Homo sapiens: one gene and its partners. The protein of the gene in region 4 interacts with the protein of the main gene of each other region in a biochemical or structural test. Each region holds a gene or a part of one and is shown on either strand. Other genes may lie near its edges. The genes, in order: PML, CALM1, PTEN and CSNK2A1.

Region 1 (8,193 bases), on a different chromosome or scaffold from region 4:
ATTGAATGTGGGGTATAAATTGTGCTTTACACAATTGCTGCCAGCCCACGCTAGCTACAAACACTGAACAATCTAGATGTCAACTTTTACATGGGAGCAGATAGCACAGACCGCAGGACCTATGAAGAGAATCAGCAGCCAAACTGAGCAAGTACCCATTGAAAAGGGGATCGTGTAGGAAACATACACCTCTGTAAATGCCAACTGTGTTTTTCAGGGAGACTTAAGAACACACTACAATGAGAAAACAAGAGCAGGCTGCCAAGAAAAAGCATCCTGAGAGCATTAAGCTCTTTTGGCAATTAAAAAAAAAAAGATTGCTGGGGGGAAAAAAACCCACAACAACTCTACAGGGGTAGCAGATAGAAGAATGGAGTCAGCGGCGAAAAGATGAGCTGGCGAGTTAGAAAAACAATTCGAGGAGCTCTCTGAGAATCTCGGGGAAAAAAGCAAAGCAACAGAATTAATGGGGAAAAAATTTAAAAGATGTAAAATATGTTCTTGGAGTTCCAATATCCATATAACAACAGTAGTAAAAATTTTAAAAATAAACAAATGGGCCGGGTGCAGTGGCTCACACCTGTAATCCCAGCACTTTGGGAGGCTGAGGCGGGTGGATCACGAGGTCAGGAGTTCGAGACCAGCCTGGCCAATATGGTGAAACGCCGTCTCTACTAATAATACAAAAATTAGCTGGGCATGGTGGTGCGCACCTGTAGTCCCAGCTACTCGGGAGGCTGAGGCAGGAAAATCACTTGAACCCAGGAGGTGGAGGTTGCAGTGAGCCGAGATCGTGCCATTGCACTCCAGCCTGGGTGAGAGTGAGACCCTGTCTCAAAAAATAAAAATAAAAAATAAAATAAACAAATGAAGGGCTATCAGTATATTAAAAAGTATGGCCAGGCACAGTGGCTCACGCCTATAATCCCAGCACTTTGGGAGGCCAAGGCGGGCAGATCACTTGAGGCCAGGAATTCAAGACCAGCCTGGCCAATATGGCAAAACCTTGTGTCTACTAAAAAGAAAATGCAAAAATTAGCCAGGTGTAGTGGCGCATTCCTGTAGTTCCAGCTACTTGGGAGGCTGAGGCATGAGAACTGCTTGAGCCTGGGAGGCAAAGGTTGCAATGAGCCAAGATCATGCCACTATATTCCAAGAGCAATACTCTATCTCAAAAAAAAAAAAAAAATTAAAAAGCAGAATACAATTTCCCTGAGATGAAGAGCTGAAGAAAGACTTGAGTTTTTCAGATCAACAATGGCGATAGAAGATTATTGAAAAAAGAAAAAATTATATAAAGATCTTTAGCAGGCTGGGCATGGGCTCAAGCCTGTAATCCCAGTGCTTTGGGCGGCTAAGGCAGGAGGATCACTTGAAGCCAGGAGTTTAGACCAGCCTGGGCAATATAGTGAGACCCTATCTCTACATAAAATTTTAAAAATTAGCCAGGCATGGTGGCAGGCACCTATAGTCCTAGCTACTCAGAGACTAAGGCTAGCAGACCTCTTGAGTCTAGGAGTTCGAGGTTACAGTGAGCTATGATCACACCACTGCACACCAGCCTGGGCAACAGAGCAAGAACTTATCTCTAAACAAACAAATAAACAAATGAAAACCATCCAACTATATTTATTAGCCAGGCACGGTGGCAGGTGCCTGTAGTCCTGGCTACTTGGGAGGTCAAGGTGGGAGGATTGCTTGAGCCCAGGAGTTTGAGGCTGCAGTGAACTCTGATTGCACCACTGCATTCCAACCTGGGTGACAGAGTGAGACCCCATCTCTAAAAAGTAAAATAAATAAAAATAAATAAAGATCCTTAACAAACAAAAACAGATTACTCACAGAGAAAAAATAGACCATTAGTGGACTTCTCATCTACAACACCAGAGACTAGAAATTTATGAAGCAAGGTTTATATATTCTGAGGTGAAAGCACTGTGATTATGACCTCAGAATTTTACACCTAGCTCAACTTTCCCTCACATGTGACAGCAAAAGAAGGACATACAAGTAAAGACACTTAAGGTCTCAGAAAGTAAACTCTGGAATAATTTTTTTAATTACTTGATGGAGTATTCCTGCCAAATGGAAAATTAATCACCTTAAATAATTCAAGAAAGGAGAAGAAAAGCTATAGGAAAACTTATCATGAGCAATGAAACCAATTAAAGTATAAGGTATGGCTAACAAGTGCGTTGTAATATGACCATGAAGCTTAATACCTGTTCAGAAAGGATGTTTACAAAAGAAAAAAAAATTAACAATTTGGTAGTAATCTGGAACTAAAAGTTCACATTATTTCAACTAAATCTGAAAGTGAGAAGGAAGAGGGAAGAAGAAAAACTATAAAAGTGTGCTAAATGTTTTATTTTCTCTGGAAGAATAGTTATATTCTACTCTTTGTGGTGATAGATGAGATAGGTTCTAGAGTGTGCATGTATGTGTGTGTTGGTGTGTGTATACACTTTTTTTTTCTGAGATGGAGTTTCACTCTTGTTGCCCAGGCTGGAGTGCAGTGGCACAATCTCAGCTCACTGCAACCTCCGCCTTCCAGTTTCAAGCAATTCTCCTACCTCAGCCTCCCGAGTAGCTGGGATTACAGGCGCCCGCCACCACGCCCGGCTAATTTTTGTATTTTTAATAGAGACGAGGTTTCACCATGTTGGTGAGGCTGGTATTGAACTCCTGACCTCATGATCCGCCTGCCTCAGCCTCCCAAAGTGCTGGGATTACAAGCGTGAGCCACTGCGCCTGGCCCACTTTTTTTCTTTTTTTAAGACAGAGTCTCATTGTGTCACCCAGGCTGGAGTGCAGTGGCGTGATCATGGCTCACTGCATCCTTGAACGGACAGGCTCAGGTGATCCTCTCTGAGGAATACCTCCACCTCCCGAATAGCTGGGACGAGAGGCATGTGCCACCATGTCCAGCTAATTTTGTATTTTTTTGTAGAGACGGGGTTTCACCATATTGCCCAGGCTGGCCTCAAACTCCTGGGCTCAAAATATCCACCGGCCTTGGCCTCCCAAAGTGTTGGGATTACAGGTGGAAGCCACCACATCTGGCCTATATATATGTTTTGATGGGGAAGTTACCACTCTGTAATTATCATTTAGAGAACTGGTGAAACAGAATGGAAGGAAAGGTAGAAAGTTTCGGCCAGACATGTTGGCTCACGCCTGTAATCCCAGCACTTTGGGAGGCTGAGGCGGGTGGATCACAAGGTCAGGAGATCAAGACCATCCTGGCCAACATAATGAAACCCCTTCTCTACTAAAAATACAAAAAAAAAAAAAAAACTTAGCCGGGCATGGTGGCACACGCCTGTAATCCCAGCTACTCAGGAGGCTGAGGCAGGAGAAACACTTGAACCCGGGAGGAGGAGGTTGCAGTGAGCCGAGATCATGCCACTGCACTCCAACCTGGATGACAGAGCAAGACTCCATCAAAAAAAAAAAAAAAAAAAGAAAAGAAAGAAAGGTAGAAAGTTTCAATAGCGTGGAGATACACACACACACACAAGCACTAGAACTTACATATATATGGATATATACATATAGATATATGCATATATACACATATATATTATATACATATATTTGTGTATGTATATATATGTGTGTACAACAAATACAACTTTTCAACTCTAAGGATTATTGCTAGGAATATGTGAGTCCAAGGAATATCCTAGGCCGCTAAGAAAATCTCAATATAGTCTTAGATGTAGAACTCATACAAACTGTATAAACTGGCCATAGTGCAGAAATTAACAAGTATGAAATCGCACCATCACATTCCAGCCTGGGTGACAGAACAAGAAACCAAACATCAAAACCACTTGAAAATTTTAGAAAACACTATTCTCTAAAACTTTTCAAGAGAAAAAAATTTCTTTTTTTTTTTTTTCGAGTCAGGGTCCGGTTCTGATGCTCTGGTTGGAGTGAAGTGGCACCATCACAGCTCACTGCAGGCTCAAATTCTTAGGTTCAAGCAACCCTCCTGCCTCAACCTCCCAAATAACTGGGACTACAAGCATGTACCACCGACCATGCCTGGCTAATTTTTTTTATTTTTTGTAAAGATGAGGTCTTGCTATGTTGCCCAGGCTGATCTCGAACTCTTGACCTTAAGCAAGAGAACCTTTTTAAGAAAAGACTGAAATGAAATTTGAGAAATGATTGACTATGAGAACACTAATGAAGTTATCAAAGTTATGGCATACAGCCAAAACCATATACAGAGAACTTATGCCTTAAAAGAGTTATTATTAGGCAGGGCATTGTAGCTCACGCCTGTAATCCCAGAACTTTGGGAGACTGAGGCGGGTGGATCACTTGAGGCCAGGAGTTCGAGACCAGCCTGGTCAACATGGGGAAACCCCGTCTCTACTAAAAATAAAAAAAATTAGCCAGGCATGGTGGTGGGCACCTGTAGTCTCAGCTACTGGGGAGGCTGAGGCAGGAGAATCACTTGAACCCAGGAGGCACAGGTTGCAGTGAGCCAAGATCTACCACTGCACTCCAGCCTGGGTGACAGAGGGAGATTCTCAAAAAAAAAAAAGTTATTATTATTAAACAATAAAGATTGCAAATAAATGAATTATAAGTTCAAGAAGCTAGAAAATGAATAATGACAAAAGTTAGAAGGAAGAAAATGACAAAAATAAAATGATCAAACAGAAAGAAGGAAAACATTAAAATCAGTAAGCAATCTAAGGAAAGACTAAAAGTACAGTACTTTGAAAAGACTGCTAAACCACAAATATACAACATCAGAAATAAAAAAAGGGGGTATAGTTACAGGCATATAGGAGATTTTTAAATAATGAAAGATAACTCAGGATGAACTGGAAAATCTTCCAAAAATCTGACACAAGAGCCAAAACAGATTAATGCCATGGCAAAAATGGGAAAAGTTCCCAAAAATCTACTATAAAAAAGGCACCAGTTCCAAGATGGTTTTTCAAAAAACTTTTATAAGCCTAAATTTCTTATATTCTTCAAATTGTTCTAGAGCAGAGAAATTATAATAGAATTTTAACATTCACTGAGTATTTAATATGTGCCAGGCACTACGCTAAACAATTTATATGTACAGTTGGCCCTCAGTATCTGCAGGTTACGCACCCGTGGATTCAACAAATCTTGGATCAAAAATATTCAGGCGAAAAAAAATCAATTAAAAAAGTACCACAATAAAAAAATATACAAATTCAAAAATATAGTAAAACAACTCTTTACATAGCATTTACATTGTATTAGGCATTATAAGTAATCTAGAGATGACTTAAAGTATACAGGAGGGGATGGGTACAGTGGCTCACACCTGTAATCCCAGCACTTTGAGAGGCCTAGGGAGGGTTGCTGCCTGAGCCCAAGAGTTCTCAAGACCAGTCTGGGCAATGTCGTGAAACCCTGTCTCTACAAAAAATTTAAAAATTAGCTGAGTGTGGTGGTGCACACCTGCAGTCCTGTATAATCTGGTGGCTGAGGTGGGAGGATTGTTTGAACCCAAGAGATTGAGGCTGCAGTGAGCCACGAGTGCAGCACTGCACTCCAGCCTGGGCGACAGAGCAAGACCCCGTCTCAAAAAATAAAAATAAAATAAAAAATAAAGTATACAGGAGGATGTGTAGAGGTTATATACAAATACTATGCCATTTTATATCAGAGACTTGAGCATCTATGAATTTGAAACAGACTCCCATGGATCCCGTGGGATGGCTGCATTATCACGTTCAAAACATGAAAGCTTACAAATTCATTAAGAAATTAGTATAAGGCTGGGCATGGTGGCTCATGCCTGTAATCCCAGAACTTTGGGAGGCCGAGGCAGGTGGATCACCTGAGGTCAGGAGACCAGCCTGACCATTATAGTGAAACCCTGTCTCTACTAAAAATGCCAAAAAATTAGCCAGGCATGATGATGTGCACCTGTAATCGCAGCTACTTGGGAGGCTGAGGCAGGAAAATGGCGTGAACCCGGGAGGTGGAGGTTGCAGTGAGCCGAGATCGCGCCACTGCACTCCAGCCTGGGTGACACAGCGAGACTCCATCTCAAAAAAAAAAAAAAAAAATTAAAAAAAATTTTTTAAATCCAAAAGATAGAACCAGAGATAAAGCCAATTTCTCCTAATTTATTGCAATTTCAATCAAAATCCAATAAATATGTAAGTTTTAAAACTGCATAAATTGTAAGAGCAAAAGAAATGCATACATTTTTTTCTTTCGAGGAATTTGTTCCTGAATTCTTTAATTAGTCCCTTAATTCCTCAACGGAAACAACAACAACAACAGGCAAAGGACCTAAACAGGCCACTCGCAAATGCAGAAACACAATGGCCAATAAACAAGTGGAAAGCCACTCAACCTTTACAATAAGCTAAGAAACGTGGTGATACCAGCTGTTGAGGAGTCGGAGGGGAAAGCTTATTCTGATAGTGTGGGAAGTTTATCCTAAAGCAGGAAACAAATCACAGTCAGTTTAGCAGATATGTAGTTCAGCAAATATGTGGTTTAGCCATATATAGTTCTGAGTTGTCAAAAACCAGCGAAAAATGCTTTCATTTTGCAAGTGGATCTCTAAGAACCAAGAAGCGCCTTCTATGAACAATCTATTGCTAATGGTGAAAAGTTCACATAGTTATGCTACCTTTTTGGCTAAAAGAGGGAAAATAGGACCTGATAAGATTGCTCCTACCTGCATATATATTCGTAAAGAAACTCTCAGAAGAAACATTCAAAACTAGTAACAATGGCTACCTGTGGATGGGAAGAGGGAGAAGTGGTGGGAATTAGGCAGTTGGGCATGGACAGAAGATTGCACTCTCTCTCTCCTCTTTACAAATTTTGTTCGTGAACTGTACGAATGTATTACCTATTAAAAAACTGAGTTAAAATCTGTTTAATAAAAATAATTACAACTGGATGTGATTTTTTTTCCCCATACAGACATTCTCAGATAGCGCTGCCTGGTGTTAATGGTTTCAACTTTTCAGACAGAAACTAACTACTTGTCTCTGATCCTAGAATCCAGCCTTACTGAGATTCCGTGTCAGTGCTCTCGGAAAATTCCACTAAATTCTAAAGGGCAGTTTGGTAACATGTATCAAATGTAGAATTCCCGTCCCCCTACACCCAGCAGTGGCACTTCTAAAAATTTATCCTAAAGAAGTTACTGGATAAAGATGCAAAGATGATTCTGCAGCATTATTTATTACAGGAGGAAACTGGAAACTTACTATCCACCTGCGTGGGGACTGGCAGCATAAATTGTGGTCATCAACACGGACACTGCATATCTGCAGACCACATTTAGAGTTGCAAGGCCCCAGAAGCTCCTTGTCCTCAGCTGTGTGACTCTTTGGATCTTTGCTCCTCTCGCCCTCTACCTGGTACTTGGATGCACCACCCCACCCTGTGCCGGCCTACTCACCTGGTCAGCGTAGGGGTGCGGTGGTTGGGGTTGGAGCAGAAGATGTTGTTGGTCTTGCGGGTGCCGTCCAGGAACTCACGCACCGACTGGTTGCGCAGCTCTGCTAGGGGCCGGGCCTCGTGCTTGAGGAACCACTGGTGTGCCTCGAAGCACTTGGCGCAGAGGAGCTGCTCGCACTCAAAGCACCAGAAGTCGGCCGACTCTTTGCAGCGGGTGCACACAGCCTGCGCATCCACAATCTGCCGGTACACCGACAGGCGCCGCTGCAGACTCTCGAAAAAGACGTTATCCAGGGCGGGTGTGTCTGCACCTAGGGGCCAGGGCGCCTGGCAGATGGGGCACTGCATGCCCGACGCCTCCAGGCATCCTGAGCACAGCGTGTGCAGACAAGGCAGCAGCTTCGGGCACTTGGCTTCCGCCTGGCATTGCTGGCAGCGCAGAAACTGGAACTCCTCCTCCGAAGCGGGGGCTCGCTGGGGGACCAGAGAGGCAGGTGAGGCCTGGAGAAGTCCCAAAAGCCCCCACCTACCGGCCAACCACCCTTACAGCTGGACCCTGGAGTAGGACCTCATATTCCATTCCAGCCAGTCATTGGATGATGCAAAACCCTGGCTTATCAGCACCCCAATACCCCCATTTATTCAGGCCCTCCAGCTCTCACTGCACCATTTATTGAGCATCTACTTCTCATCACCCACAGTAATAGGCTCTGAGATATAAGAGGTGTAGGATACATTCTGCCTTCAAGGAACTCAGTTTGG
Region 2 (8,193 bases), on a different chromosome or scaffold from region 4:
GTGGACTGAATGATAACCTTTTCTTTCTTCATATAGGCTGATCAGCTGACCGAAGAACAGATTGCTGGTAAGTTGACAACTCCAAGGAGTCCCCAGAAGGCCAGAACTAGGCACTGACTCAGTTTTGGTGACTCCTCTGTTCCTCCCCGCTACAGTCTGGGCAGTTTTCTAAGAATTTATTTAAATAAGAACAGTAAGCAGAAACACTGAGGTCAGATGTTATTCTTGCCAGTACTTTATAGATGAGGTGAAAGGAAGTAAAACTAAGGATGCCCACATGTTAAACTCTGGAGAATTTGACCATGTTTCACAATGTGCAAAGTTTGCGTATGATTAATTGTACTGAGCCTGCTACTCAGCGGTTTAGTTTACAATTCTTATGCCATGGGTCTTTCAGTAATCTGCCACGAAAGCTTGTGCTCGCTATCCTAAAATAAATGGAAATGGGTGAATATGAGTGTTAGGACCACTGTAGTAATTGGGAAGAAAGTTACATTAGTTAAACTCTGTTGCCCAGGCTGGTCTCTAACTCCTGGGCTCAAGCAATCCTCCTGCCTCAGCCTCCTGAGTAGCTGGGACTACAGGCATGTGCCACCACGTCTGGCAGATTTTAGCTTTTTAATATTCCTGGAGGACTTGTTTTGAGACTGTTTCTCGTTAGGAAACCAGGAATGCTTCTGAAATATTCTAAAAGTCATGTGGAGAGAGTTTACCTGGGAATGTACATTTCTAGTAACCATTTTATTTGTTATGAAACAAGGGATTCTTATGGCTTTAGAAATGTAACAGGAAGGGATTTGAAGGGGGCACATGGACCAATCTTGTCAGATTGGATTTAGTCCCTTGAACCTGGGAGGCAGGGGTTGTAGTGAGCTGAGATTGCACCACTGCACTCCAATCTCGGTGACAGAGCGAGACTCCATTGTTTAAAAAAAAAAAAAAAGATTGGATTTAGGACTAATTTAAGCATGTTCCAGCTTAGCCGCCTTGAAACCTTTGGGAATATTGTGGTGTGTGGCACTGTTTATTGGGAGCAGTGTTTGCTTTATGGGCTGCTGTATGAAGGCCAGTCCAACAGGACTATTGTGGTCATTATTTCAGTAGATAAAGACCAGACTTCTGATACGTTGCACAACTTGAATGGCTGGCTTTGGCAAGCCCCCGGCAAGTGTGTATTGTGACTGGGTTGGATAAAGACATTGATTCTAACGGGTCAACTTTTGTTTTCAGAATTCAAGGAAGCCTTCTCCCTATTTGATAAAGATGGCGATGGCACCATCACAACAAAGGAACTTGGAACTGTCATGAGGTCACTGGGTCAGAACCCAACAGAAGCTGAATTGCAGGATATGATCAATGAAGTGGATGCTGATGGTAAGAGCTTTAAAACCATGAATGAGGGCCATTGTTGTGTAATTCAAGTTCAGACATGTTACAGGATTGTCTTTCAGGTCCCCAGAGCAAAGCAAATGTGCAAAGATCCTTTCTGTGGTTGCCCCAGGGCCATTGACAATTAAAATAGAAGATGATGGGCCTTGCGTCCATCCTGCTTAGTGTCTAGAATGTTTTCTGCATGGGATCACTATTGTTTTCTTCCTGCTTGGTGCGACCTAGAGCTCAAATCTATTTTTTTTTTTTTTTTTGGAGACGGAGTCTCGCCCTGTCGCCCAGGCTGGAGTGGCACTGGCGCGATCTCGGCTCACTGCAACCTCTGCCTCTTGGGTTCCAGCGATTCTCCTGCGTCAGCCTTCTGAGTAGCTGGAATTACAGGCGTGTGTCGCCACGCCCAGTTAGTGTTTTGTATCTTTAGTAGAGATGGGGTTTCACCATGTTGGCCAGGCTGGTCTCAAACTCCTGACCTCGTGATCCGCCCTCCCCGGCCTCCCAAAGTGCTGGGATTACAGGCGTGAACCACTGCTCCTGGCCGAGCTCAAAGCTTTTATCAACTGGCCCATGAGTCTGCACTGAGTCTTGAGGGGGGAGGTGAAATTAAATAGCCATAGAAAGTGCTTTTTAACAAACTTACTGTGTTTAAAGAGGAGGAGGAACCCCCAGATGAAGTAGGTGACGAGCACTCTTAGAAGTTACCATAAAAGTGAGTACAGTGTGAGCTGTAGATGTGTTTGCTGCAGAGGAGCATGTGAGGTTTGGAGGCGGATGTGTGGTGACTCCAGGGGATAGATTTGCAGAACCTAACGGAAAGGGAAGCTGTAAGGTGCAGGGCCAGAGGGAACCAGCAGTAACCCTGATAGCGGTCTGTCATCTGTTCCTCTCGACTCTACAGCAGCGGACAACAGAACTTTGATTGCTGATTTCCATCAGTAAGCAGGCTTTGAAGCACACTTCCCCACCCCTAAAAAAAAACCACGTATTTTGGTAAATCCTATATATATTCTAATGTACTGTATGACAGTATAGAACATGATTTTTAAAAGATGAGTTGGGAGGAGAAAAGGATAAAAGAAAAAATAAAAGAAGCATTAAGAATAAACAATTCGGATCTAGATTTTACTTTCTAGATGATTGACTCGAGGGTGGTGTAGTAAAATCGCTTGTCTGGTCACAAACATTTGGCAGCAGAGCTTTTGATTAGGTTCTTTGACAAAGCCTTCAGCACGTTAGAGTGGTTTTCACTAATAGTGTTTTGGAAAGAAAAGGTTGTCCATAGTTCTCTAGTTTGCTAAGATGATCAGCTACCCAGGAACGTGGAGTAACTTCCTCTTGTTTGTGGGAGCCCCGGGAATCTGTGCCTGGGGAGGGGAGAAGTCTGTTAGGCTCTTGGATTGTGTGGAAGAAGGAGAAGTTGTGCCAGGCTACAGAATCCTGTGTTTGCACTGAGAAAACAGGATGGTACCTGACCTTCTCTGCATGGCTGTGAGATAGCTTAAAATAATTTCTTTTGTTTTTGATGAATATGAACAATATCTTAAAATTTTTGAGGCTAAAAAAGTCTTGAAGGGATCCCTGAGGTATTTTCTTTGAAAGGTACTGGTGAAAATGAGTAACTTAACCTAAGGGTTTTTCTTTCTAATTTTATTTCCATTTAGTTCAATGACACTGTTAGTCTGGAGTGCTTGTCTTTGGGGGTATTCATCTCTTAGTTTTAAAGAGGAGTTGTTTGGAGTACTGGCCGTAGAACAGATTGTTCTGACAGTTCCCTAAGTGTTACTAGTCTGAGCTGTGAGAATGCTCCTGAGCTTTTCCCTTAATGGGAAATAAAGATACTGAGTTGGAAGAAAACAGGTGGCTAACCATCATAGCGTGGCCAAGAAATGATCCTGGAGAAGACTTGGTAAGACTTCATGGCCCATGCATGGCATAACAGAATCAATGTTCCTCTCTCATAATCTTTTCTCCTCTGAAACACTTTATACACTTAACCTGCAGCTCAGTTCTAGGCCTTTTTTGTGTTACTGCTGTCACTAACCAAGGCAGAGTGAGACCTGAGTGATTTCCCTAACTCAGGGATGGCAGTCGGGGGCGCTTTCTTCCCTCGGAGTGGAAAGATTCAGCCTGCGGAGTGGTGTATGCTATTTTTCTCTTGAACTGTACAGCCCTTCATGACCCTTCCATGGGCTTGAATCCAGATGTGCAGTTTCCTTTGTATAATTAAATACTATCCTGGGCACTGATGATGAGTTTGAAATTATGTGAAATTGCCCTGTGAAGTGTTTGAACGTTTTAGACCTGCAGATGATTGAACCTAGTAAGATAGTCTGCCCCTTTGTCCTAGTACATGTTTACCGTTCCGTACAGTGGTTCTGAAATGATTACTGCAGAGCAGCGTTAATGGAGTGCTTACTTTACATGAGCTTTTTGTTTTTTAATTCGAGGTAATGGCACCATTGACTTCCCCGAATTTTTGACTATGATGGCTAGAAAAATGAAAGATACAGATAGTGAAGAAGAAATCCGTGAGGCATTCCGAGTCTTTGACAAGGTAATCCAGCATCTACATAGCAGATGGTACTTAAGTATGGCTTCTTCCGCTTTCACTTCTAAAAGCTATAATAATGTTATAGACAGAAGACTTAAATCTAACTGCCTGAGCCTCTGATCTCACTTTCAAAAATCCTCCTTATGGTAACCGTATCAGGGGAGGGTAGGCATAATAAATAGGAATTTTGGACCATGTTTCTTGACTGTTACTTTGAATTGTTGTGAGCTTTTGCAAATCCTGTTTTCTGCATTAGCTGTTTGCATGTATTTAGTAGGTTAGAGGTGGGAACTAGAGATCAGAGAATTGTTTATGGCAGCAGAGTTAGCAGTAACTTGAGAGGGCATAGCTAAGTCAAAGACCTACTTCCCCACACTACATCATTAGCAATAACAATTGCTGAATGTTCACAGGATGGCAATGGTTATATCAGTGCAGCAGAACTACGTCACGTCATGACAAACTTAGGAGAAAAACTAACAGATGAAGAAGTAGATGAAATGATCAGAGAAGCAGATATTGATGGAGACGGACAAGTCAACTATGAAGGTAAAACTAAATTCTCTGAGCTCAGTGTTTCATAGTCTTACCTTTAGATCTGTAAGCAAGCCAACTGCTTCACTAGACAGCCTTTGACTTTATTTTATGTACAGTAAAGATGTTGTGTTCATTAAAGCTGTTTTCAAAGATAACCAAAAGTTACTATTATATTTGTCTTTTCAGAATTCGTACAGATGATGACTGCAAAATGAAGACCTACTTTCAACTCCTTTTTCCCCCCTCTAGAAGAATCAAATTGAATCTTTTACTTACCTCTTGCAAAAAAAAGAAAAAAGAAAAAAGTTCATTTATTCATTCTGTTTCTATATAGCAAAACTGAATGTCAAAAGTACCTTCTGTCCACACACACAAAATCTGCATGTATTGGTTGGTGGTCCTGTCCCCTAAAGATCAAGCTACACATCAGTTTTACAATATAAATACTTGTACTACCTTAATGATAAGGACTCCTTAAAGTTCCATTTGCTAATGATTAATACACTGTTTGGGCTGGCCAGTTTTTCATGCATGCAGCTTGACGATTGAGCACAGTCAGGCCTTTGTATTAAAAATGAAAAATGAAAAAACAAATTCAAAACCTATTCAAATGGGTTCTAGTTCAATTTGTTTAGTATAAATTGTCATAGCTGGTTTACTGAAAACAAACACATTTAAAATTGGTTTACCTCAGGATGACGTGCAGAAAAATGGGTGAAGGATAAACCGTTGAGACGTGGCCCCACTGGTAGGATGGTCCTCTTGTACTTCGTGTGCTCCGACCCATGGTGACGATGACACACCCTGGTGGCATGCCCGTGTATGTTGGTTTAGCGTTGTCTGCATTGTTCTAGAGTGAAACAGGTGTCAGGCTGTCACTGTTCACACAAATTTTTAATAAGAAACATTTACCAAGGGAGCATCTTTGGACTCTCTGTTTTTAAAACCTTCTGAACCATGACTTGGAGCCGGCAGAGTAGGCTGTGGCTGTGGACTTCAGCACAACCATCAACATTGCTGTTCAAAGAAATTACAGTTTACGTCCATTCCAAGTTGTAAATGCTAGTCTTTTTTTTTTTTTTTCCAATAAAAAGACCATTAACTTAAAGTGGTGTTAAATGCTTTGTAAAGCTGAGATCTAAATGGGGACAAGGCAGGTGGAGGGGAGGCCAGTGTACATGTAAATGCCCACAGCCCAGCATTGGGTTTCCCTCCCAAGGCCCCAGCACCAACCTCTGAGCCCAAGACCTTGCCTGAAAACAAGCAGATACCGATTGCTTCATCCTATTTATGGACATGTAGGTCTAGTTGCATTTTCACTGGGGGGAGGGGGGAAGGTGAATTATGGTAACTTTTAATGATCTATTCAGGCAGTAGAGCTCTTAAGGAAAAAAAAAAACCCACTTTCTCTCAAGCATGTATTTAGGGGTTGTTCTCAATTGTGCTGCTGATTACCTGTCTTATGTAACTACTTGAGACCATCTGCAAGAGACATGATTTAGTGTGTCTGTAATTCAATCTTCGCTGTGTGTGGTAGAAGCAGTAGTCACTTTTGTAAGCCAGTCTCTTCATGCCTAAAAGACACTACCAGTCACCTTTGATTCGCGACTTTTAATTTATGATTATACTTAGCCTCCTCCTCCTTTTTTTTTTTTTCCCAAGTTGACTTGACTTTGCTTTTTTCCCCCCAAGTAGAACTAATGCTAGCTTCCAGCTTGAAAGTAAAACTCCAGTGTGGAGTGAATTTTGTGTCTAATTATAAACCTGTAACCAAAACTCAGACATCTGGTACTGGTCTTTGCATTGAGATTGGTCCCTGTAAAACCCCCTTTAAAAGCATATTGCATTTAGTACAGAGCTCTTTTTTGAAATGAAGGCTGGAGATGTGCATTTTTCACGGTGTTAACTGGTTGTATCTTATTAGCAAGGAGATTGGGGTTTTGAGTGTTTGCGTGGGTGGTTTCAATTTGCCAGGGAACAGTGGCAGGCTGCTAGCAAGGCAGTGAGAAGCTCTTGGCAGCCAAATGGGTGCATTCAGGGCTGATTTATAGAGACCCTTGGCTTCTCCTTCTCCTACTCCCTGTCTTTCTGGCATTTTGTAGCTTGTTAGATTTTCTGCCAGAGGGGTGGGTCAGAGCAGTGGAGGGGAGACATCGCCCATGTGCTTCTGCTACTGGTCCTTGGGCTGGGTGGTTGGTAGAGGAGATGTTGACACTATGAGCTAAGGGTTGGCTTTTGTAATTACCTGAATCTGAAAGGAATGCCTAAGGTTACCTTGGGGTTTCTCTTCTGGTGAGATAGGGTTCCTGGTTTGAGTAAGTTAATGTCCTGGATATTTCTTGTGGCAGGGGGTGGTCAAAGAGCCTGATTGCTGACCCAGTCTCAGGCCTGTGGTCGATGACCTCTCGGTAGTTTCAAAGGGGGCTGGAGGGGGATATTTGACTTGTTTTTTCGAAATGTAGCCTTCTAACCCTCAAGTCTTTAGAAGCTGGGTGGACTCTTAGTGGTCCTGCAGCGTATCCTAAAAGACTACCTTTGAAACAGGATTCTTGTATGGCCAGGATCCTGTCTGGGAACCAGAAACCCTACACCCTCCCCCTCCAGGGAATGCTGAGTTCCAGTTTTGAGCAGAGGTGAGGCAGAATCCACTGTAGCCTTCCGCCCTGGTATTTGGGGGGATGACCAGCCCAGGCGTTGGGTGTTAGTCTGCATGAGTTTGTGAGAGGAAATAGCTGGGTGTCCTGGCAGTGCCCTTGAAGTTGGTTAGGACCTTCCTGTAAACTCTTGCCCCTACTTCTAACTACTCTATAAATATATACATATATTTATATATAAAGTGATTAGTTGAACTGGCATCCTGCTTTAGCCTGAGACTTGCCATAAGAAACTGCTGAGTACTTGGCAAACCCTTTCATAGTTTTGTTCTCCATCTGTTTGGGGTAGGTGTTGAGCGAGGCAAATGGATCTCGATATTTCAGATGGGCTTTTGATGCACTGTTGCCAAGGAAGGCTTTTTCTGATTTTTTGACAAATGAATTTTTGCACACTTTCATTGGTGTCTTTCGGCAACTTACACACATTGAAAATGAGCTATTGTACATATTTTTATATTCTCTTTATAAATGCATGTCTGATTGTACTTGTAACAATATTGTAATGAACGGCTGTGCAGTAGGCCCAGCGCTGCTGTGTCTCGTCAGAGGAATAGCTTACCACGAACCCCTCAGCATACTGGGAATCTCTTCCTGAACAACGAATGTAAATTTGGTCAAGTCTACTCTTCCGTTCATTCAATTATTTTAAGCATTTGAATTATTTATTGTATATCCTAAATATATTTCTCCTTTGGCAGTGACTAGATTTCCACTAATGTGTCTTAATCTATCCCTCCAGCTGGCAGTTACTGTTTTTTTAATCCCCTGAAGTTGTCCTGTAGGAGACAGAAATTCTTTGCTGTCTGTATCCCTTGGAGTAAGAAGGTAGTGGCATGGGTGGAGTGTGTGTTCTTTCTCCAAATCTATTATGATGTTTATTAAACACTTCTGTAGCAAAGATGGTGGTAGTTCTTTTGTTACTGAAGTTGCCCTTCACCATGGCTATTTGAAAAGGAGATGTACTTGGACGTTTCTGTAAATCTTGAGATAAACTGTTTGGAGATTTAACCACCTCTCTGATGGGGGACCAACTCTATGGAAATTGTAAATACGTTTTATTTATAA
Region 3 (8,193 bases), on a different chromosome or scaffold from region 4:
GAGGCATTTTTATTAAAGCAGTCTTAAGGAGTGTTCGTCAAACCACATGTTCTGGGATCCTGAGAAAGTAGGGGAAGTTTAGAGAACTGAAGCTGCACAAAACTAATGTTTATTTTCTGTTGTGTTGTCCTGAGACCAGCTTCTTAGATTGTGTTTCCTAGTCCTACATCTCTGATTCCTTATAAAATATTCCATTATGAATTCTTCACTATTGACAATTTCTCCCCTTTTATCTTAAAAGTACCAAAGAAAGTGTAAAATGTGACTGTCTTGTCAGTCCTCTTTTTCCTGTTTTTCATGTCAGTGGGTATGAAATTACTAGCAAGGATGCATATATGTGCATATGTCATTACTAAATGCATTTTCTTTCTAGAAAAACTCAATATACTAAATTGTACTAAAAAGGAAAAGCTTGTTTTGTTTTGAGTGGTAGTATGAAAGTTGTTTTATTTTAGGTCTGACCAGTTAGAAACCAATGGATTGTAGTTTATTTATAATTAGTTAAACCTTCATGTGAATTTGGTTTTGAATTACCTTTAAGGTAGAGAAGAAACTATATAGATGTTTTTCAGGGTTTCTAAATGTACAATACAGGTTCACAATCACTTATTTGAAACTCTTGGGGCCAAGTATGTTTCCATTTTCAGAAATTTTAGTTTTCAAAAGGTAGCACAGATAAATATACTTTTACATAAACACCCCAGTGGGGTGTGGGTCAGTACCTGAAATGAAATGTTTTACTCTTCGCTCTAAGTGTATTAAATATTATGTACAATCTTATTACTTCAGATCAGGATTTGCTGTAGTTGAGTTTGCCATAAAACTTAAGAGAAAATTTTAGATGTTTTGAACTTTTGGGATATTGAAATTGCAGGTTAAGGAGCTATGGACCTTTATTTGTTTTAAAATGCTAAGAGTTTATTTTAAGTAATTTTTAAAAAATTTGTTTTGCATAGTAGTTGGAGTTACCAGGGTACTGCTAACCACACTGATATGTAAGATCTCTTTCTGAGCCTTTTATTGTTTGTAAACATGGCCTGTTAATCATTAGAAAGCCAGTACATACTAACATATCACTGCTATTAAGACAAATATTAGCATACTCTAGTAATGACAAGTCAGCATTTTACTATTCTGTATTGATTTTACTTATTCTTTCATTACTCTCATACTGTAATTAAAACTTGCAATCTGAGAGACTGTTGAAAAAGGTGATCGTTGGCTTTTCAACAGGGAGTAAGGTCTGGTTTAAAAAAAAATTAGTAAGCATTTGGCCAAGTAGATTAACAACATTCAGTTTTTCTTTACTGTCCTTATGCTTTTACTATTTTTAACATATATCTTTTTGAAGAATAGTTTGAGAATTATGTATGCTTAACTATGAGATACAGATACTATTGAAACTAGTCAGTTGTTTATAGGTACTTGTAAAATTAAAAATATATTCCAATAGCATGCAGATTTTTCATAGAGGAAATTTGAAAGCATGGAAGCACCTGAATTTACAGTACTCTGTATTAGTGGCATCACAAGTTTTTAAGCAAATGTATTAGCTCTAATTGCATACACTTAATCTTTTAAGCTTTGGTTTTATTATTATAATATGGGGGTGATAACAGTATCTACTTAATAGAATTCTTGTTATTACATGAAATAATTAATGTTAAACACAGCATAATATGTGTCACATTATAAAGATTCAGGCAATGTTTGTTAGTATTAGTACTTTTTTTTCTTCCTAAGTGCAAAAGATAACTTTATATCACTTTTAAACTTTTCTTTTAGTTGTGCTGAAAGACATTATGACACCGCCAAATTTAATTGCAGAGGTAGGTATGAATGTACTGTACTATGTTGTATAACTTAAACCCGATAGACTGTATCTTACTGTCATAACAATAATGAGTCATCCAGATTATCGAGTGAGATACATATTTAAGAATTATCTTTAAAAATTTCAAAAATTTTAATTTTACTGTTGTGTTTTAGGAAAAAGTATTGCATAAAGCTATTAATATTGTCAGGAAGACTAAAGTGCAGCATAGACTAAGAATTAGGAAAATTCCTAGACTAAAAATAGTATAAGGAGAGGGTTTACCTACTATTTGAGGCAGTTGGTCTAATAGTAAGCAATCACAGGGAGAAAGCAGAACTACTTAACTCTTCTGTGTTGAGGAATGACATAAAAGGTAGGAAAGGATATAACAAATGTTGATAAGAGGAGTCTGATGGATGAGAGGAGGGAACTGCTTTAAATGAGTTTCTACTTCAGACATAAGTTAATTCTCAGAGCCCACAAAAACTTTCACTTTTATTTGTGAAATACAACTCAGTTCTCATGGCTTAACACTTTAAACCATGAGAAAACTGAAGAGTTGAGAAGCTTGGCAGATGCTGCTGTGATAGTCAAAAAGAAAGTGGGTGCCATGAGCTACTATTGATGTATTTGCCATTGATCCCTCCTGAAAATCTAGAATGGACTTTCAGACAAATGGTTTGAAAATTCTAAATCACTAATGATTGAGATTTAGTATAGGTTTACTAAGAACGGGTTTTTTTTGTTTTTGTTTTTGGTGGATTTAGGCTGTTGCTTACTAAGCAAAGCAGGCTTTAGTTGAGGTTTATCTTGCTTTAAACAGATATTTAACAGATTTTCCTGGAGGTTTTTGTGTACCACTGGGAAAATGAAGTTAGGCAGATGACTAAGTGAAAGCTGTCCTGCTGACTCCTTATAATGATAGTCATTGTCTACCAGAAGATCTCTCCTGTCACACCAAAGGATAATTGATTATATCCTGTACCATATTATGAGTCACCTGATTGGAGATATAAGACATACTTCTCACATATTTAGATGACACAGGTTAGTACATTGAATATCAGCCAGGGTTTTTAAGGATCTTAATAGAGTGGAACTAAGGTAGAAACTATTAAGAGCAATTAATAGTGATATATCTATAGTCCTGTTTCTAAACAAGTTTTTTTAAAAACCTCAACTCTGACTATAGTGAACAGAGAAGTCTTGGACTCTTACAATTCATGTGAGAAGACCTGAAACTTTGATAACAATTATATACATTTTGTGAGTAATTTCTTTGGTGTATGCCTTCACATATCTCTGGTATGTGACCTATGCTGCAGTCCATTGAGCATAGATTCCCAGAATGTATTCTCCTGCAGAAAATGGAGGAAAATAATACTTGGCTTCCCTAATGATTACATGTGTATACAACACTAACATTTGCAAGACCACCTTTAAATAACACACTTAGCATTTTTATTTTATGAAATGTAATATGTAGTTCTTTGCATAGTTTATCCTATTAGTAATCTATTCTGTCTTTGGAATATGTTTTGTGATGATGAAATAAATACTATAAATAGTATTATTCCTTTTGCATTGAGAGTCCTGACGAAATGTCCATGTGACAGTTCATTTTGGGTTTAGCTCTACCTCTAATATGTGACCTATGCTACCAGTCCGTATAGCGTAAATTCCCAGAATATATCCTCCTGAATAAAATGGGGGAAAATAATACCTGGCTTCCTTAATGATTATATTTAAGACTTATCAAGAGACTATTTTCTATTTAACAATTAGAAAGTTAAGCAATACATTATTTTTCTCTGGAATCCAGTGTTTCTTTTAAATACCTGTTAAGTTTGTATGCAACATTTCTAAAGTTACCTACTTGTTAATTAAAAATTCAAGAGTTTTTTTTTCTTATTCTGAGGTTATCTTTTTACCACAGTTGCACAATATCCTTTTGAAGACCATAACCCACCACAGCTAGAACTTATCAAACCCTTTTGTGAAGATCTTGACCAATGGCTAAGTGAAGATGACAATCATGTTGCAGCAATTCACTGTAAAGCTGGAAAGGGACGAACTGGTGTAATGATATGTGCATATTTATTACATCGGGGCAAATTTTTAAAGGCACAAGAGGCCCTAGATTTCTATGGGGAAGTAAGGACCAGAGACAAAAAGGTAAGTTATTTTTTGATGTTTTTCCTTTCCTCTTCCTGGATCTGAGAATTTATTGGAAAACAGATTTTGGGTTTCTTTTTTTCCTTCAGTTTTATTGAGGTGTAATTGACAAGTAAAAATTATATATAAATACAATGTATAATATGATGTTTTGATGTATGTGTATATACATTGTGAAATGATTACTACAGTCAAACTACTTAACATATTCATCACCTCACATAATTATTATTCTCCCCCCAGGGTGAAAGCATTTAAGATCTACAAGCTACAATTTTCAATTATACAATGTTATTATTAACTATAGTCACTATGCTGTCCAGTAGAGCTTCAGATCTTGTTCATCTTGTGTTCCTCCCTCCCCACCCTCAGTCCCTGGAAAACAGGTTTTAAAGATAGTTGCTAATCCTTATTTCTTCTAAATTTTTAAATCAGTTGCTGCCTCAATTTCTATATGAGAAATGACTGATTGATTTCATTTTTCTGTTCACGCTACCATTTTCATATCATACTAGCACATGTTACCCATTAACTGTATTGCAGATTTGGTCTCACAAAATTCTTCTAAAATAACATTTTTAAAAAGCATATTAATCAAAAATAAGCTTTATATTTCTGAAGCTTGTTTGAGCATAGAATGCCTTTGGATAAAATACCATTACCTAGTAAAGTGTGAACTTTTATAATCCATAAAAATTATTCTTTTATAAGAATATTCATAAATGTAGTTAGATTAATAGAAGATTCTCGATTCTTTGATCAGAAAACTAAGGACTATATTGAAAAATCAGTGACAAATTTAATTCTTATAGTACATCTGAAAGAAAAAAGAAAACTCTTGGGAGAACTTTTACAGTGATTTAATTTTGCTGTTGATATATTTCTTTGGGTGGTAAGTATGGCAAAACATGTTAAAATTTAATGCAAAGAGATTTTGTACATTTTTCCATCTCTAAGAAGGACAAAGCCTAAGCCCCTCCAGATAGATAGAAAAACTCATTTAGAGAGTTCTCCTTCATGTTAATCTAATTTCTTCTTAATTCAGCTGTAAAACAGAAATAGAATGATCGTATTAATCATTTAAAGCTGTGTAATTGCATAGATTCCTTGTTCCTTTACCCCCTCTTATATCTTGTTTCCTATCCTTTGTGACTTTTTTTGCATTATATATAAGGATGCCGAAATACTGTTTATTGTTGATAGTTTACAAAATTGAATCTTACATTAGTGCATAATTTTGGTGAATGTTGAAGATTATGGTAGATTGCCTTACATTTCTGCATATTGTTTGCACCTTGGAATGATAGCACTGGCATGAATTATAGAGCTGAGGATCTAAAGATTTTTACTTTGATTTATCCCATTATCATCTGCAGGGAAACAATTGCTTTTACTGATTAAAAATGCAGGCTGGGCACAGCGGCTCACGCCTGTAATCCCAGTACTTTGGGAGGCCGAGGCGGGCGGATCACAAGGTCAAGAGATCGAGACCATCCTGGCCAACCAACATGGTGAAACCTCATCTCTACTAAAAATACAAAAATTAGCTGGGTGTGGTGGCGCGTGCCTGTAATCCCAGCTACTCAGGATGCTGAGGCAGGAGAATCGCTTGAACCCGGGAGGTGGAGGTTGCAGTGAGCCGAGACTGTGCCACTGCACTCCAGCCTGGTGATAGAGGGAGACTCCATCTCAAAAAAAAAAAAAAATGCAGTAGCAAAAGCGATGGTAGAAATTTAAAACAGAGTTGATGAGCAGCATATATTTTGGTAGTGGAAAAAAAGGTAAAAAATTTTTTGTAATAAAATAGAAAAATTTTGTAATGTGGAGGCGCAGAACACTAGATTTAAGCCAGGGGGTCTTAAATTGTGTTACATTCCTTTTAAAGTCTGATGGAAGGTATAAATGTTCTCCCCTCAAAAAATGTGCATAGTGTACATAAAATTTTGCAGTTTTTATTACATTGAAATATATTCTTTTAGACAGAATGTAAAAGAACCTTCATGAAAACTATGTCACTTTTTTATGCAAAAACCAGTGGCTACTACATGAGAGCAATGAATAAATCTAAGTGGTACAAATTAACCAAAATTAAGCTTTAGTTCTGTTCAATACTAAATTTTAATGAAAAGACTGCTATTTAACTTTTAAAATAACAAGTTGAAACTATGCTCTTTGACTTTGACTTTGCAACTTTTATATGATCTTTGATATCCAATCAGTGTTGACTTTGGTAAAAAGTGCTGAAAATGCTATTTTACAAAAGAAAGAAGAGTAAATGGAATCTGTAGATTCTATTGCCTGATGAAAGTAGACGTGTCAAGAAATAAGAATTCTCCAAGGCTCTTCAGATAAATTCATGTTTCATCATTTTCTTTGCCTTCAAGTTACTGAGATCATTTTTGGCAAGATCTGTATCATTAATGCTGTGTTAGGAAAGAAAAGATTATGACTCCACATTTTACTTTCAAGGTTGAAGAGTTAAACTGTTTAAAAAGAGTGTATGTTATCCTGTAAACAGCAGTATCAGGCTGTAGAATTTGTCTTCTGAAAGCAGGGAACTTATATATAGCAAAGAACTTCATAGTGCTCCCATTTCTTGACAAAACCTCTCGAGAAGCTCTTGATTGAAAGTCTTGGCTTTCATGAATCTGGCAGCTTTCACAATAGTGGATTTTTCATGACAAATCATCTTACACAGGGAATTATTCAAGGGTTGGCACTTGAAACAGTAGAATACTTTCACAACAAGAGATAAGATTTCTTTCAGGATTGATGACAGTCTTGCACCCTAGCGCATACTGATGAAGAGAGCAGTGGGTGACCATGACATGGAGAGCTTCTGTCTTTACCAGTGCCCCAATATCAGATGTGTTGTCTGGCAGTAAGGTGTACTGTCTGCCTACAGAATACTGAGGTTTCTTCAGGAGAAGTTTTTTGGTAAAGAAACTTTACCATTTTGAAAGTGTTAATGTTTTCTGAAGCTTCCAAAAAGATTCCAAAATGGGAATGTTTCCTTGATTGTGTCACCATGCTTGCATTTGATGAAAACTTGTAGCCGGCTATACTGAGAAATCATATCTGAAGAAAGGTGGTACTTCCAATCTTTTTGTGACCTACTTTATTATTGTTTTTTTAATGTCAGGGTTTTTTTTGGAATGGAGAAAAGTATTTGATAGAGGTATTGCAACAGTCTTATTCTTCTTCATGCTACAAGTATATTTGACTCTTTCTAAGATACTTGCCTTCACTGTTCAACTGTGTGACTTTTTGTTTGTTTAGCATTACAATCAATATCCTAGTAGGATGATTTAATCAATGATTTTTAATTGGAACAAATAGTTTTTGTAATGGTCTAGGCTTTTCCAACTTAACTGTGCTCTCACATGTGGTCTCTTTTTCTCCCTCTTTCCTCCTTCTTATACACTCTCACCCACACACATATGCATACATACCCTGTCTGATGTATCTGCTTCTTCAGAATAGTTGGCTGTGCTCTGCTGATGATGAGAACTTGCCATTTAAGAAGGACTTGGGATAGTCCATGTCATCATGTTCAGGGATAAAAGTAAAACCCAAGGGCATTTAAACTTTATTGTATTTTATTTTCTGTTTCCAGTCCAAATTAAATCCAAGAGAAGGCTCCATAATCAAAAAGTAAGGACATATTTTAAATTTGCCAATGGGAAGATATTCTAGTCATTACAGTCTGGTAATACTATCAATTCTGTTTCTCTTCAGAGGTGAGGGGAGACTATTTGATGAAATCGTAAGTCCTGTAGGGTGTTGTGAAATAGGGCCAGAATGAAAGATAGCAAGAATAGTGTTATGAAAATAAAATGCAAAGTTTATAATATCATGTGGTAAAATGTAATAGTATTTACTTCATCAGTAGAACTGCTCTAGTAGCTGTATATTCTCCATCCTTGCATAGGTTGGAATATCCCCCAAGTGAAAAGAGATTGATGGGCTAATAGTTAATAGAAAATGGAGATCTGTACATACAGTGTTAAGAATGTAGATATTAAAATTGTTATATTTAGCTGTTACATAATATTAAGACTCAGAGTTAAGTAATTTCACTGAAATTGATTGCTTTTTGTGTCTTGGAGTCAAAATAAATAACTGAAATCTACTATACTTGGCTCATGCTTAATTAATATACTTAGACCATATTTCGGATGAATTATTCACAGAATCTAAAG
Region 4 (6,986 bases):
CGTCAAAAGAAATGGGTTCATATACCTGATCGCCTTGTCGATCTTGCATTACTGGGCAGGCTAAGAGCTCCCCTTCTGATGCCGCTTGGCTAAGACAGGGTCCCAAAGCTGTAGTGTATCCCTTGTCTTTTTCCAATTTATTGGAGGAGGGGGCTCAGGCAAAACCTCTGTTTCCTCTTTGTTATTTTTGCCTGTTAATGGCTGGGCTGAGGGAGAAGGAGGAGACGGTAGGGTAGGTGACGGTTCCATCTCCCTTACTTTTTTAGGCTTTTCTGTGTAGAGTGGGACCAAAGCAGTCCTAACTAAAGCCCATAACGTTAAAGATGTTACTGAGACCCATTGCCCTTGCTCATGATGTTAAAATTTCTTCCCAGAGCTCTACGTCTAGTGTACCTTCTTCCGAGAGCCATGGGTTATGGGAAACAACAGTTTGCATTAGGTCCCATAATTGAGCCTGTCTGAGGCTCTGCTAACTTTCAGCATTTGTTTTACTACTTTTATATACTGTTGCTGTTGAGCTGACAACTGTTGTCCCATGATGACAACTGTCATCCCATGATGATCGTCCCTAGCTTGAGCAATTCCTTTGAACTTGGAAATGCTGAACAGGCACCAATGACTTACTGACTGCGCAGTCTCTTCACCTTCATTTTCGAGGGTTCCGTCGTGATCTGTTGCAGCATTCCTCACACAGGGAATCACCTGCCGAGTCTGTCCCACAGACTTTGGCCGAGTGACAGATGAAAGGAGTACTCAGACACAGATATTCAGTGAGAGAGCAGGCTAGGGGACTGCCAGCACTAGGGGCCGAAGAGAGTTAGCAGTCCCCTTAAGCTGGTGGCCCTCACATTTATTTAGCACAAATTTAATGACAAAGGCTTGGAGCAAACACAATTTGTGGGCAATAAACATTGTCAACATCCCAAGTAGACAGCAGTCCTGTGTGTGAATGATCAAAGGTTGGTTTCTGGACACAGGAATAAACAAATTTATCTAGGTAAGTTCCTATACAACTCCCCTGTTATCTGCCCTTTGCTCTCAGGCTTCAGATAAGAATTTGGCTGCCTTCAGCCATAATTTCTTTCTGAAGCTTTTGCAAAACCTCTCGGCCTTCCAAGAAGGTTTGTGTCTTTCCTATAATTTCTCCCACCACCCTGACCAATCTCCTACAAAGGCTGAAGCAGGAGGATTGCTTGAGCCCAGGAGTTTGAGGCTGCAGTGAGCTGCGATCACACCACTGCACTTCAGCCTGGGCAACAGAGCAAGACCTTGTCTCTAAAAAGTAAATAAAAAAAAGAGTTGGGCTAGGTTTGAGGTTTATTGTTGCTATGGTTACCCCCAATGCAGCAGCTTCCAGTTCCTCCAATGACACCTTGGACTGAGGGTGCAGGCTGGCCTGCCAGAGGGATTTTCTCCTTCCATGTGTGCTCCCTGCTCAGCTTTAGGTCCTCCCTTTGTGACCCTCAGAAAGGGTCTTCTTCCCATACTCTTGTCTCTCTCCTGTAACATTTTTACTTCTAACTCAAGGCTTGTCAGCTTACCATTGGCAGGTGGGGGAGGAGGGAATTCTCTGTTCTGATCAAGTCTCAGTCTCTGTCAGGCCCTTTGTGTCTCTGATTTTGGGGTTATGTCCTCCTTAGTGCTCCTGTTCCTCCCCCAGTTCTGGGCCCAGTGTGTATTCCTGCCCCTGCCCAGGGAAAGTTTTGTTTTGTTCCTGTTTCATTCCCCCAGATGCAAGGGAGCTTCATCCAAGGGGGTGACAGGATTTGGTGTCCTTCCCTCCACAGACTAAGGCTTTTGTCCGGTAGGGGATACAGGGAAGGGTCTGGGTGGAGCACTGTGATCCTTTCACAGTAGCTGCCATTGTCTTCTTCCAGATCTTGAGACATTTTATTAAAACTTTCTCCAATCTTCTGTGTGCTCCCAGTGGGGTTCATGGTGAAAAACGCTGAAAAGGGTAAAGACTACTGCAGTCTCCATGACCCAGTCCCTCACCAGTGTCCACTTGTGTTTACCAGGTAACCAGTGCCCATGTCATCTCTTCCATTTTGTGCCTGTCTCTCCTTAGATTTGAAGCCAGTTGATTGTCTTCTGATCTCAGCTCTCCAGAAGACCTTTTCCAGAAGACCTCTCCCTGTGTATCCACTTCTAAACCAGTCACAACTGCCCGAGTCTCACAGCAGCATGGTGGATATCCCGCTGTCCCTCAAACTGGGGCTCTGTCAACAAAGAGGAAGGGAGGAATGACTCCCTTGGGAGGAGACAACAACATTGCAAGTGATCTAGTCTTTGAAAGGCTTTTAAGCAAGGGACTGAGATAAAATTTATTTATTATTTTTAAGAGAGAGGTTCTCACTCTGTCAGCCAGGTCTCACTGAGAGCAATGTGATCATAGCTCACTGCAGCCTCCAACTCCTGGGCTCAACGTATCCTCCCACCCAGCCTCCCCAGTAGCTAGCACTATAGTCACACACCACCACACTAGTTAATGTTTTCATTTTTTGTAGAACAGAGGACTCGCTGTGTTACCCAGGCCTCAAGTGATCATCGGGCCTTGGCCTCCCAAAATGCTGGGGTTATAGATATGAGTCACTGTGCCTGGACTAGAATATTTATTTTTGAAAGATCTTTGGTTGCAGGTGTCAGATGAATCAGGAATTGAGACGAGATGGGAAGGCATCAAGACCAGTTATCTGCTATGATACTCCAAGCAAGAGAGGATGGTGGCTGGGATGAGGAATTTGGCAACGGGAATGGGAGGAAGTGGATGCATTCAAGATAAATATCCATTTATTAAAAGTAGTTGCTTTTTCACCAGAGTAATACATAAATATAGTTTTAAAAGTAAATACTGCTACTATCTTAACAATAATTTAAAAAATCTCAAAATAACATGCAACTGTTTGATTTTTCAGTTTTAGGCATTAGTTCCCCTTATAAATGATGAGAGTTTAGAGCTTAGACCGCTTGTCCTGTTACCAACACCACCACACATGCCAGCATTTCCCATCACTCCTCTTTCCATTGTCATCATACTGTAATCCTGGTTAGACCAGTATTCAGTGTTTCCATTATGACTACGTAAATTCTAATCACAGCTGAACCAGCAGTATGATATTTAGTTTTCCCTCCTTTCATAACTTTTCCCATTCCTGCTGAGTTAATACTTTTTTGGCTTGTCTTACTCTGCTCAGTTTTCATTTTGTAAACTTTTAAACATTTGAACTCTAGCAAATATACTGAGAAGTGCCCCAAACGTAAATGGAGAGTTTAACAAATAATTATAGAGCAAATACAACATTTAGGTACCACCCCAATAAACACAACACCGAGGACCCCCAGAAGCACCCTGTGTATAGTGGAATGTTGTGTTGTTTCTGGCCATGGAGTCTCAAAGACTGATTCTCAATTTTTGTTGCTTGAAAACAAGTAAACAAGTATTCTCAGCCGGGCACGGTGGCTCACGCCTATAATCTCAGCACTTTTGGAGGCCGAGGCAGGCAGATTACTTGATGTCAGGAGTTCCAGACCAGCCTGGCCAACATGGTGAAACCCTGTTGTTTTGTAAAAATACAAAAACTATCTGGGTGTGGTGGCATGTGCCTATAATCCCAACTACTTGGGAGGCTGAGGCAGGAGAATCGCTTGAACCTGGGAGGTGGAGGTTGCAGTGGGCTGAGATCATGCCACCGCACTCCAGCCTGGGTGACAGAGTTAAGACTCTGACTCAAAAAAAAAAAAAAAAAGTTGGTGTAATCCTTTCCACACACACATATATATATACATAGATGTTATATGTGGTTGCCTTCTGTTCCTACTGATATATATGAATAGTATGGCTGATTGCATTATTGGTTTGTTTCTTCATTCCCCTGTAATAAGACTAAACATACACACCCTTTGCCATATAACCTCATAAAGTTTTCCCAACACAGGCTCTATGCTTCCCTACTGCACTGATGTTGGGCTTGGCTATGTGATTTGCTTTCGCCAATGGGATGATGGTGCTTGTGACACAGCAGAGGCTTGAAATGTGCTTGTGTGATTCCATTTGGTCTCTTCTAAGTTTCTGTGATTCATGAGAAGAGCACGCCCTGAGTAGCTGCTGCAACTTCTGCCACATTGGGCAAACCTGAATCCAATTCACATGGAGGTGTCCAGCCCAGCCGACCCACAACCTGAAAAACAGCTGCTTGGGCTGAACTTGATCTAGATCAGCTGAACTACATACAGTTGCCTTAGAAATTTGTGAGACTAAGACTAGACAGAGAACAAAAGCAAAAGAAAGAAAAAATTTGTCTGCAATGACTGGCTAGGAACCTGGACAGATTCCTGGCAACATAGCTGTGCAAAAGCAGCCCCACAAGCAAAATTGAGCCAGGAGACAGGGTTCTGATCCCAGGCATGGGCCTTGGCAGCTGAAACTTGTTAGGCTGGGCCTCTCCCTCGCCAGTTCAGGCAGCCCCTCCTCTGAGGCCTCATGGACCATTCTCTCTTCTCCAAGACTTCAAGATTCCTTCCTAGTGAGTTTTTCTTTTTTACTTTTAGATGGAGTCTGGCTCTGTCACCCAGGCTGGAGTACACTGACGTGATCTCAGCTCACTGTAACCGCCACCTCCCAGGCTCAAGCAATTCTCCTGCCTCAGCCTCCCAAGTAGCTGGGACTGCAGGCACACGTCACCAAGCCCAGCTAATTTTTGTATTTTTTAGTAGAAACAGGGTGTCACCATGTTGTTCAGTCTGGTTTCAAACTCCTGACCTCAGGTGATCCACTCGCCTTGGTCTCCCAAAGTGTTGGATTACAGGCGTGAGCCACCATGCCCGGCACCTAGTGAGTTTTTCTGTTACTTTTTTTTTTGGAGGCGGGGTCTCCCTATGTTGCACAGGCTGGAGTGCAGTGGTGAAATCATGGCTCACTGCAGCCTCAACCTCCTGGGCTCAATTGATTCCTCCATCTCAGCCTCCCAAGTAGCTGGGACTACAGGCATGCACCACCATGCCCAGCTAATCTGTGTATTTTTTGTAGAGAGGGTTTCATCATGTTTCCCAGACCGGCCTTGAATTCCTGAGCTCAAGTGAGTCGCCCGCCTCCACCTCTCAAAGTGCTGAGATTACAGGTGTGAGCCACTGCACCCAGCCTGTTAAATCTTTTTTTCAATTAATAACAACTTCTTTTACAGACAGGGTCTCACTCTGTTGCTCAGTCTGGGGTGCAGTGGCACTATCATAGCTCACTGCAGCCTTGAACCCCTGGGCTCAAGTGATCCTCCTGCCTCAGCCTCCAGAGTAGCTAGCACTACAGGCATGTGCCACCACATCCAGCTAATTTTTAATTTTGGTAGAGACAGGGTCTCCCTATGTTGCCCAGGCTGGTCTCCAACTCGTGGCCTCAAGCAATCCTCCTGCCTCAGCCTCCCAAAGAGCTGAGATTACAGGCATGAGCCACCACGCCCAGCTTCTGTGACTTTAAAAAAATCTTTTTAGACAGGGTCTTGCTCTGTCACTTGGGCTTGAGTACTGTGGCACAATCACACCTCACTGCAGCCTTGACTTCTTGGGCTCAGGCAATTAATTCTCGTCCTTTGGCCTCCCCAGTAGCTAGGACACAGGCGCACACCACCACACTCAGCTAATCTATTTTTTGTAGAGGTGGGTTTTCGCCATGTTGTCCAGGCTGGTCTGGGACTCCCGGCTCCCAAAGTGTTCCAACCACAGGTGTGTGGGCCTTCCGTGGTATCTTAACCTCATCACCCAGAGGCAACAACAGCTAGTATTCTTCTAGTTTTTACCACCCCCACCACCTCAATCCTGCCCCTGTAGCCTTTCCAAGTGCCACAGCATTGTTTCAGTTTCTATCTTAGAAAGCCCGGGAGTCTGTGTCCTATCTCCCTGGGGGCATTCAAACCCTAGTCCATAGCCTGAGGCCCACCTATACCCAGACCCAGTGTCTTGGAAGCACTGACTTTAATACCCACTTAGGCTGGGCGCAGTGGCTCACGCCTGTAATCCCACCACTTTGGGAGGCTTGGGCGGGCGGATCACCTGAGGTCGGGAGTTCGAGACCAGCCTGACCAACATGGAGAAACCCCGTCTCTACTAAAAATACAAAATTAGCTGGGCGTGGTGGTGCATGTAATCCCATGCCTGTCTCAAAAACAAAACAAACAAACAAAACAAAACAAAACAAAAAAACCCCAGTTACATTCAGGATGAATTCTGCCTTCCTTTTTGCCACCTTGGGATTTCCATTTCTTTCTCTGAAATAGGCATTTGCATTTTTCCTAGGATTTTTTTTTTAAAACAGTTGGAATTATCCCATATACACAATTTTTTCACTTTTCTAATTAACATACATTTCCCCATGGGCTTGTGTCTCACCTCTCAATCCCCAGTGTATAGCAAAGACCAGGCTCAGGGGCACTTACAAATGTTTGTTGAAACCAAAGACATCCTATATTACAGAAATGAACTTTGGAAAGACCAGTCAGCGTGGGTGGGTGAGGAATGCCAGAGACGGGAGAACAAAATGAGGTATACCGTCAGGTTTGAAGGGTTGAGGGTTATGGAGGGTTCTTCATAGGAAGTTCACCATGGAGTTCTTGGAACTGTTCAACACACAGAAGCAAGGTCCTCTCCTTCTAGGTATGGCTAGAAATGTTTATCAATAGCTGAGACTCTGATTCCCAGGGTGGGATCAGGAAGCCAGCCCCAGCTGCTGCAGCATTTTTTTCCCTTTTTCTCATTACAGGAGCCAAGAAAACTGTCAAAGCAGATGATGCAAGAGTGAAGCTGACTCAGAAATACTCAATCCCCCCAGGAACTTCTCTAAGAAATGGACTGACCATCCTGTAAGCTTCCATCTGGAGGTACCTGGGGAAGGGCTTCTCACATTGAGGCCAATAAGAATCCCTAGTGGGCCAGGTGTGGTGGCTCATGCCTCTAATCTCAGCACTTTGGGAGGCCAAGGCGGGTAGACTGTTGAGCTC

What was found.
Region 1: of the proteins of CSNK2A1 (region 4) and PML, one has a biochemical effect on the other in vitro, tested with the Homo sapiens proteins (2 studies listed by BioGRID and IntAct).
Region 2: of the proteins of CSNK2A1 (region 4) and CALM1, one has a biochemical effect on the other in vitro, tested with the Homo sapiens proteins (3 studies listed by BioGRID, with this or other methods).
Region 3: the proteins of CSNK2A1 (region 4) and PTEN form a complex in vitro, tested with the Homo sapiens proteins (3 studies listed by BioGRID, with this or other methods).

Annotation. Positions count from the first base shown.
Region 1 is NC_000015.10:73,997,716-74,005,908, reverse strand, and holds part of PML (protein PML), read right to left. Parts: intron 7,906-8,193; coding exon 7,433-7,905; intron 1-7,432.
Region 2 is NC_000014.9:90,400,029-90,408,221, forward strand, and holds part of CALM1 (calmodulin-1), read left to right. Parts: intron 1-36; coding exon 37-67; intron 68-1,230; coding exon 1,231-1,374; intron 1,375-3,833; coding exon 3,834-3,940; intron 3,941-4,350; coding exon 4,351-4,486; intron 4,487-4,660; coding exon 4,661-4,689; 3' UTR 4,690-8,193. UniProt on the Homo sapiens protein: Calmodulin acts as part of a calcium signal transduction pathway by mediating the control of a large number of enzymes, ion channels, aquaporins and other proteins through calcium-binding. Calcium-binding is required for the activation of calmodulin.
Region 3 is NC_000010.11:87,929,261-87,937,453, forward strand, and holds part of PTEN (phosphatidylinositol 3,4,5-trisphosphate 3-phosphatase and dual-specificity protein phosphatase PTEN), read left to right. Parts: intron 1-1,785; coding exon 1,786-1,829; intron 1,830-3,752; coding exon 3,753-3,991; intron 3,992-8,193. UniProt on the Homo sapiens protein: Dual-specificity protein phosphatase, dephosphorylating tyrosine-, serine- and threonine-phosphorylated proteins.
Region 4 is NC_000020.11:471,732-478,717, forward strand, and holds the end of CSNK2A1 (casein kinase II subunit alpha), read right to left. Parts: 3' UTR 767-6,986; downstream 1-766. UniProt on the Homo sapiens protein: Catalytic subunit of a constitutively active serine/threonine-protein kinase complex that phosphorylates a large number of substrates containing acidic residues C-terminal to the phosphorylated serine or threonine.